Homo sapiens: one gene and its partner. The protein of the gene in region 2 purifies or fractionates together with the protein of the main gene of each other region. This does not show direct contact. Each region holds a gene or a part of one and is shown on either strand. Other genes may lie near its edges.

Region 1 (4,563 bases), on a different chromosome or scaffold from region 2:
AGGAGTAATAGTTAATTGGGTGAGTCCAGGTTTCCTGATTACACGGAGAATCATTCTGCTCCCACATTATACCAGCTAATAGCTATACCCATCAACAACAGAGATGAAATTCCATTCTAATGACACATCCTTCCCCAATAGTATGGAATTCCGTCAAAATAGAAAACCTGCTGTTTCTCAAAGAGTTTAAATTTATAGACACAAGAGCTTACACACTATTCTTTGCCTAAGCCTAAATTCAAGAGGATACCACCAAATCAGAGAACAGAAAAGGTCACTCAATTTTCCTAACTCCTCAACCACCACCTGCCACGTGGCTATAACCATCTTACTTCCATGCAATCGTGTCAATGAAATTGGAGAGAAGTAGATGCCAACCTAGTGATCCAGGCCTCTGGAATCCTAAGTCTCTTCCTATGTCTCCAGCAATGCTGGCTAGTTTGTTAAAAGCTAGAGAAACAGGATTTTGCAAGAATGGCTGATGTCTTGTGCAAATATAGTTCCTAGATTTTTTTTTAAATCAGGTGGTCATGTGGGTTAGAATACAGAAAAAAGAAAGCAAAGAGGCAAAGTTACCTTGATGTTGTCCCCCAACCGAGATCAGATTGATCATGGGAGGTGAAGGGCATCTCTGAGCCACTGCCCTCCTACGGAATAAAAGGGAGTTTTAGCTCCGACTGTCAGATGGAAATGTATCATCCACAATCAGCATCACAGATTAAGCTAGTCATCCTCTGTGACTCCCCAAACCCGCAGAGTTTCAGGATTTTCCTGATATGGGCAAATGCAAATATTTCTTTCAACTTTCATAGAAAATAAATTAAGCTCCAGCCAGGCATGGTGGCTCACACCTGTAATCTCAGCACTTTGGGAGGCTGAGGTGGGTGGACTACCTGAGGTCAGGAGTTCGAGACCAGCCTAGACAACATGGTAAAACCCCATCTCTACTAAAAATACAAAAAATTAGCTAGGTGTGGTGGTGAGCACCTATAGTCCCAGCTACTCGGGAGGCTGAGGCAGGAGAATCACTTGAACCTGGGACGTGGAGGTTGCAGTGAGCTGAGATCGCGCCACTGCACTCCAGCCTGGGCAACAAGAGAGAAATTCTGTCTCAAAAAAAAAAAAAAAAGAAAAGAAATTAAGTTCCATAAAGCTTCTTACACAGGAACATTTTAGGAAATTTCCCTTCCAAGATAGGTGACAATCTTGAATTGGAGGAGTGGATTTATCTGAATAAAAGAAACAAAAATCAATTCCATATAAGTGGTACAATATAACAAAAAGGAACGTACAGAAATTGGCCTCCCTGGGAGAATCCCATAGCATTGTAGCCTTGCTGCAATTTAGGATCCTTAGCAAGTGCCTGACACACTGTTGTTACTTGGGAATTGACATTCAAGAAGAAGCTGTTCTCCACGTCCTAAAAAAGAAGCCAGAGAGAAGTGAGAGGATGGGACTGAAAACAACCACTGACATCTTCTCTAAGAGGTAAACTCATTTAGGTTGGTATCCTCACATGAGCCACTCAAGGGTGAAAGTATCACTGTATGATCTGCTGCTGAAAACACAAGGCAAAGCATTTTAACAGTATATGCTATGAAATCAGTCAGCAACCCTTCAAAGGAACAGCTGTGAAGCGCCTTACCTCCATCAGGGTCTTCCCAATCTCTAAAGATAAGACGTAAATTCCAGGTATTTTCTTCTCCACCATTTTTTTAATAGCACCCATGCTTAAGGGATTGCAACAGCTGTCTCCTAGCCAACAAAACACAATGATGGAAACTCATGAGTCCAAATATTGTTTATTGTTTAAAAACTCTGAGGCCTCAAACAGCATTATCAAGGATGTGAAAACAATGTATAGAATGGAAGAAAATATTTGCAAAACAGTTATCTGATAAGGGCTTAATATCCAGAATATACAAGGAATCTATAACTCACTTACAACTCAACAAAAAGATAACCTAATTTAAAAATGGGAAAAGAAATTAAACAGATATTTTTCCAAAGAAGATATACAAATGGCTAACCACTGGCATGTGAAATGCAAACCAAAACCACGATGAGATACCATTTCACACAGACTAGGATGTCTTTAATAATAATTTTTTAATAGAAAATAACAAGTATTGTCAACGATGTAGAAAAATGGGACCCCTTGGACATTGCTGGTGGGAATGTAATAAGCAGCCACTGTGAAAAACAGTTTGGTGGTTTCTCAAAAAGTTAAACATACGATTACTAAATGACTCAGCAATTCAACTCCTAGTTATACACCCCAAAGAAATAAAAACACACGTCCATGCAGAAACTTGCATATAGATGTTAACAGCAGCAGTGTTTGTAATAGTCAAAAGGGAGAAACAATCCAGCAGTCCATCAATGAATGAATGAATAAAATGTGGTATATTCACACAATGGAATATTACTGAGTTATAAAAAAGGAACAAAGTGCTGACACATGTTACAACTTGAATGAACCTCAGAAACATTATACTAAGTGAAAGAAGCCAGACTCAAAAAGCCACATAATGCATGATTCCTTTCATAGGATAAATAAAGAACAGGCAAATCCACTGAGATACAGAAAACTAAGCTGGAGATTATCAAGAAGTAGTAGGAGGGGGCAATAGGGAGTGATTGCTTAATGGCTATGTGTGTTTTTCTGGGGTGTTGAAAAAGAAGTGTTAGTTGCACAACATTGCAAATACACTAAATGCCACTGAATCGTACCATTTTAAATGGTTAACTTTACATGAATTTTTACCTCAATTTTAAAAAACAGAAGAAAGAACATTTTTTGCTTAGCTCCTGTTTATCAAGTAATAACAAGCTTCAAAAGTCCATACAGGAGCTGGGTGTCATGGCTCACGTCTGTAATCCCAGCAGTTTGGGAGGCCGAGGTGGGTGGATCACAAGGTCAGGAGCTCGAGACCAGCCTGGGCAACATGGTGAAACCCCATCTCTACTAAATATACAAAAATTAGCCGGGTGTGGTGGCACATGTCTGTAGTCCCGCTACTTGGGGGGCTGAGGCAGGAGAATCGCTTGAAACTGAAAGGTGGAGGTTTCAGTGAGCCAAGATCATGCCACTGCACTCCAGCCTGGGCAACAGAACAAGGCTCCATCTCAAAAAAAAAAAAAAAAAAAAATCCATATAGGCCAAGCATGGGCTCATACCTATCATCCCAGCGCTTTGGTAAGACGAGGCAGGAGGATTGCTTGAGGCCAAGAGTTCGAGACCAGTTTGGGCAACATAACGAGACCCTGTCTCAAAAAAACCAAAAAGCCCATATAGGATAATTAAGACACCAAATTTACAAATGAAAAATAAGCAGAGGTACACATTCCCTTCCCCTATCACAGGGGATATTTGGGGTGAACAGATGCAAAGTTTTCTCTTCAGGGCCAGGACTAGGGTGAGGCAAATTAAGCATCTAGGACAGCGGTCTTCAACCTTTTTGGCACCAGGGACCAGGTTTGTGGAAGACAATTTTTCAAAACTGTTCCACCTCAGATCATCAGGCATTTGCTAGATTCTCATAAGGAGCACCCAATCCAGATCCCTCACATGCGCAGTTCACAACAGCATTTGAGCTCTTTGAGAATCTAATGCCACTGCTGATCTGACAGGAGGTAGAGCTCATGGTGGTAAGGCTGCAGGCTCACTCACCTCCTGCTGTGTGGCTAGTTCCTAACAGGTCACAGACCCAGGGAGTTTGGGACCCCCGCTCTAGGGCACAAAATTTAAGGAGGCACTCATTCTCAGGTTTATGTAAGTGTTGACCCTGAATTTGAGAGTGAGTGCCTCCTTAAATTTGCACTTCAGGAGCCTCTTCATCTTGTCCTAGCCCCAGACTTGTTTCTTCTATTTCAGGGAACTAGAACTAGGAACAGGAAGCAAACTGGCTACTGAGTAGAAGTGGACTGAGATCATTTCCCATTTTGAACTTACTTATTCCATTTTCAACCTGCGAGAAAGCTTAAGCACCAATTTTAGAACAAGAAAAGGCTACTGCCTAGAGAATTGTCTATTCCTTTTATTTCTCTGAAAACAACGTTCTCCACACTGAGCTGTAATTGTAGGTTACTTAACTGCCTCTGCCTCCCCTGTAACTGACTGTGAGCTCTGGGAAAACACAAAGCTCCTACCCTGTGTCCTCTTTTGACCCCACTGTAGTAGCCCCAGGGCCTGTTGGAGAACCTTGCAAGTGTTTGTATTTGCTGACTCTAATTACTCTGAATATTTTTCTGTAACCCATCCCAATAAAGATCTCACTATCACGACTCTCCCAAAACTGCTTTTGTCAAGATTAATCATCTTTATATTGCTAAATCCAATAATCAGTTGTCAGCCTTTATCTTCCTTGACCCATTAACATTTGATACAGTTGATCATGACCTATCAACATTTGATGCAGTTGATCATGCCCTTCTTCCTGAAACATTTTCTTCACTTGGCTTCAAGGACACTGCGCTTTCCTGACCCCTCCACTTCACCGGCTATTTGGTTACAGCCTCCTTTGCTAGTTTCTCCTCATTTCCTCCACCTCCAAATGGAAT
Region 2 (5,228 bases):
GAATAATTGTTAGATGTTCAGATATTTAAAGCCCTTTTCTTTCCAGCATATCACGTGTCTCCGAGAATAACCAGAAACTTCCAAAATAAGGCAGGTATAGGCTACTCAGGAAAGCTCCCAGAAGTGATGACTCCTTATGCATACTGTGCAAGATACTATTCTAGAAGTAAGAATAATACTAGAAAATGTGGCCCAAAATTTCACTCCCATCATCTGCTCTGGAAGCCCAAGAAACTAGTTTAAATTCACTACAACCCAAGATTATCATGAATAATCATATATTCTTTTGATTTCTTAGCAGACCAAGGAATAGTTTGTGTTTACTTAGTATTTCCTGTTGTATCACTACAAAAATCACTGGGAAGAGGCTACCTGACTGTAGAAGAGGCACAACTGAACTTCAGGATGTTTTTTCAGCTTGGGTTTGGCAATCTAGGTCCTAGATACAAGTTGTAGTACATGAATAATCATTTTGCTTCTGGAAATTGTATTGCAATTAGCTGATGTTTTCTGTGCAGAGTATTAAAGACTGTTGTGTAGCCATTGCCAAGTCTCATGATTCAACAATTGCTATGGTTTGAATATTTGTCCCTTCCAAAATTACGTTGAAATTTTAATCCCAATGTGGCAGTACTGAGAGGTGCGGCCTTTAAGAGGTGATTGGATCATGAGGGCTCTGCCCATAGGTTAAGTTATCACAGGAGGGGAACTGGTGGCTTTATAAGAAGAGGAAGAGTGACCTCAGCTGGCACAAAAGCATGCTCAGCCCCCTCACTGTGTGATACGCTGCACTGCCTAAGGACTCTTCAGAGTCTCCCCACCAGCAAGAAGCCTCTCACCAGCTGCAGCCCCTTGGCCTTGGAATTCTCAGTCTCCATCATTGTAGGAAAAAAAAAAAAATCCTTTTCTTTATCAATTACCAACCCAGCACTTTGGGAGGCTGAAGTAGGATTGCTTGAGCCCAGGAGTTCAAGCCTAGTCTGGGCAACACAGTAAGACTGTGTCTCTGCAAAAACATCAAAAAAATTAGCTGGGTATGGGGGTGCACGTCTGCAGTCCCAGCTACATGGAAAGCTTGGGGCAGGATGAGCACTTGAGCCCAAGAGGTCATGGCTGGAATAAGCTGTGATCACGCCACTGCACTAAAGCCGGGACAACAAAGCAAAACTTCGTCTTAAAAAAAAAAAAAACATTTAAGTCAATAAATTACCCAGTTTTGGGTATTGTTATAATCAACAAAAAATGAACTACTAACCATCCATTAACAAGAAGAATCCTATATTCTACACATAAATGCCTACCAGTATTAAATAAAAGCTCACCAATATGGCAATTTTATTAAACTTATATGAATCTGCAGATATAAAAAGTGACAGCCAACCTGTATTAATTGGAAAAACTGACAATCTTAAGAAATAATCTCTGAAAATAATTTCTCCATATTTAAAAATGTATACTTCATATGTTTTTCAAGTCTCCCAAATTTTGAAATAGGTAATTGAAAAGTTAACTACTCCAGCAAACCATTGTTTCATTTCAATAAATGAATGATTACACATGCAATGGTACTTGGCACACTACTGTTTGGTATAGGTTTTATTTTTAAGTAAAAAAAATGAATCATAGCCAAAACAAAATGTCTTGCCTTTGAATGGTATTTTAAGCTTAAGGGGAAAAAAGTCTTTAATGATGAACATATTTTCATTTTTCAATGTTTTTAATTTTTAATAAAGATTTTTAATTAAGCTTCAGTCTCTAAGCAGTTTTTAAACTTAGGTTTCGTGATCCTTTGACCTCATACTTTTAGATGGAGTCAGTTATCTTCAAAACATGACAAATTTCAGAATCCATTAAAAATTATTTTATTCAAATTATGTTTTCCAAAAGAGAGGGTTCTGTGCTAGTCGTCTTTGAAAGTTTTCATACCTAGAAAAGAAAACACATATATTTACATTCACAAGAAAATTAAAATAGGATCTTTCATTAACTGCCAAATGACTTATCCAAAACAATTTTACATGTCATTTCTAAAAAGCTATAAAAAATCTAAAAAGATAATCTGGAAATGTAATTATTCTTATAAAAAGACAGCAAGCATAGGAATTTAAATATCGGGGCAGTTTTGATTAGCTTTTATCAGAGAGCACAAATCATAAGAAATTTTAGTAATTGTTTATCTTCTGCAAATTTAAGACCTAGAAGGGACCTAAGGAAAAAAATCAAATTCAACTCCTATTTCCTCATTCCACAGATGAGCAGATGAGAGAAATTTGCTCAGGGTCACATAGCTACATTATGCCAAAATTCAAACCTAGTGCATTCCAATGCTCTCCATGCTACACCATGGTACCACTTCTCAACAAACTCTTCCTAGGCATCCTCCCATCTCTAGGATACTCAAAGTGAAAAGAAATATCTATAAAACACGGGAAAGTTGGAAAATAGATTCATTAGCCATTCATGTACACAGTGCAGTATAAACTACTCTCATAGATGGTACTTCTAAATGAAAATACACAAATATTTATAAGCTTTAATAGTGGTCCCTAAAACATAGGCAACTATATTTTCCTGTCTTTATAAATTCATAATGGCGACAATATAACAAAATATTTAGGGTAAGAACTGTTTCTCATCAGATCTCTATAGTACATACTTTAATGGCATGCAGTGCTGATGTTCACAATAAAAGAATATGTTTAAATGTCAAAAAAGGAATATATTCATAGACAAAATAGATATTCAGTTATAAAAAGCCTTAATATTGGAGACAGAAAATGCCTCATACCATTTCAGAACCACATTTGCCGGAATGAACATTTCAGATGGGCTTGGTGTCATCTGGGCCTGAGAGACAGCAAATGATGAAGCAAAATTGTAGAAATTGTCCAACATCTTTTGTGTGAACTGAAAAGTTAATAATAGATTAATGGATTATACTGAATACTTCATTTAGAACTCAATATTTTTAAATTAAAAGTGTTCTCACATTAACTTGTTTATAGGGAGTGTCAGTTCTAAGAGAGTCTAATGCTGAAAGCTGGCTGGGTGCGGTGGCTCATGCCTGTAATCCCAAAACTTTGGGAGGCTGAGGCAGGAGAATCACTTGAGGCCAGGCATTCAAGACCAGCCTGTGCAACATAGTGAGGCCCTGTGTCAAAAAAATAAAATTAAATAAATGAATAAAAAAGAATGTTAAGAGTAATCATACATACAATGACACTGTGAAATATGCTACTCACTTTGGGGAAAAAAAAAGAAAAAAATTTTTCTTCAAAATATTTTCTTTCATCTCCATGTCTGCATCCACTATGTCCCTCCTCAATTATCACTCTCCTCAAATCAACCTATTTTCTCATATAAAATAGTAACCATCTCTAAGAAGTCTTTTACCTGCCAGAAAGATAAGAGTTTACATATTATAAAGGAGCAACTGGTTATTTCCATTGCTGGAAAGAAGATAAAGGCAGCACTATTCCATTTCCTCTGTTTCCTAATCTGTTTCCCTTCCTTGACTCTAAAATGATCAAATTCACTAACATACTCCAAGTCTCCTTGGTAGAAGCTAGAAGTAAATGGACTCACATTTCCTGAGAATCAAATGGGCTTAAGTACTAACCCTAAAAGTAACTGAACTTCTGAAGATAATACTACCTTCTACTCACTCAAAAATAACCTTTCCAGCATCACTTTCTCAAATATACAAAATCAGCCATGCCTTCTCTTCTCTACACAAGAGAATTGGTCTTATTAGGTTTTTTTATTCAGTTGTTGAATAATATGAAGGCAGTATAATCCAAGAGACTCTGCTGCGAAGGCACCTGATTAATATCAAAAGTTCAGTAAAGTCACTAACAGTTTCTTCGTTTGTTTTTGAGACAGGGTCCCACTCTTTCACCCAGGCTGGAATGCAGTGGCACAATCATGGCTCACTGTAGCCTTGATCTCCCAGGCTCAAGTGATCCTCCTGCCTCAGCCTCCCAAGTAGCTGAGATTATAAGCATGCACCACCATGCCTGGGTAATTTTTTATCTTTTTATAAAGACAGGGTCTCACTATGTTACCCAGGCTGGTCTCAAAATTCTAGGCTCAAGCAATCCTCTCACCTCAGCCTCCCAAAGTGCTAGAGTTACAGGCATGTGCCACTGTACCCAGACTAAAGTCACAACTAAAAGATCAATATTAGGAAAAAAAAAAAAAATCAACAGCAGTCCTCCACACCAGTGACAATAATTTTTAAGTGTAACTGAAATCTTTAAAAGGATTCCATTCAGAATATAAACAAAGCATTTTCTCCAATACCTAGAAAAAATGCTAAGACAAACTAGTAAGATTTTTGTGGAAAATATTATAAAGACTACTAAGAGACAGAAAAGAAAACAAAAGGACCTATATATACCATTTTCAATGGAAAGATATACCATGTTCAATGGAAAGACATAACATGTCACATATGGAAAGACAATGTGGTAAAGGTGGCCAATTCTCCCCAAATTAAACCCATATATCCAATGTTATTACCAACAAAATTCCAACAAGGTTCTTCATGAAACTTGACAAGCTAATACTATTTAATGAAACTCAACAAGCTGATATAATTATTATGAAGAATACCTACACAATTATTATGAAGAATACCTATACATATTTTGATGACTGTGAGGAGGAACTTGCCCCACTGGCAAAGAGACAGGCAAATAAACTAATTGGAATAAAAGAGACAGCCCAGAAATAAACCTAAGCATATATGACAAAGATGCTATTACTCATGGTAAAAAAAAAAAAATGGGACAAATTACTCAATTCATGGGGCTAGGACTAGTTTTCCATAAGGGGAAAAATGAATTTAATTCCCTTACCATACTGCACACAAACATATTCAAAAAGTAAACCTTAAGGCTTTAAGAACTGAAAGACAACATCTTAGGCTCTGCTTGAGGCCAGGAGTTTGAGACCAGCCTGGGCAACATAGCGAGACCCCCAGTCTACACACACACACACACACACACACACACACACACACACACACACGAACATCTTTATATCTTTACATATCAGGACAGAGAAGGATTTCTCAAACATTAAAAAACCCACAAATCCACAAATCATAAAAGAAACAATACATTTATCTATATACAAATATAGTATATCTGTATGTAAAAGTCACTATAAGCAATGTTAAAAGACAAGCACCATGCTAGAAGGAGAAAAATGCAATGTATTTACAA

Evidence for each region. Proteins that work in one complex are often made in the same cells at the same time.
Region 1: the proteins of HIKESHI (region 2) and PPT1 purify together in Homo sapiens (co-immunoprecipitation; one large-scale study listed by IntAct). This does not show direct contact.

Annotation. Positions count from the first base shown.
Region 1 is NC_000001.11:40,090,753-40,095,315, forward strand, and holds part of PPT1 (palmitoyl-protein thioesterase 1 isoform 1 precursor), read right to left. Parts: intron 1,756-4,563; coding exon 1,646-1,755; intron 1,421-1,645; coding exon 1,293-1,420; intron 648-1,292; coding exon 577-647; intron 1-576. UniProt on the Homo sapiens protein: Has thioesterase activity against fatty acid thioesters with 14 -18 carbons, including palmitoyl-CoA, S-palmitoyl-N-acetylcysteamine, and palmitoylated proteins. In contrast to PPT2, PPT1 can hydrolyze palmitoylated proteins and palmitoylcysteine.
Region 2 is NC_000011.10:86,342,282-86,347,509, reverse strand, and holds the end of HIKESHI (protein Hikeshi), read right to left. Parts: intron 2,908-5,228; coding exon 2,789-2,907; exon of another isoform or gene 2,417-2,788; coding exon of another isoform or gene 2,416-2,416; exon of another isoform or gene 1,927-2,415; coding exon 1,872-1,926; 3' UTR 1,567-1,871; downstream 1-1,566. UniProt on the Homo sapiens protein: Acts as a specific nuclear import carrier for HSP70 proteins following heat-shock stress: acts by mediating the nucleoporin-dependent translocation of ATP-bound HSP70 proteins into the nucleus.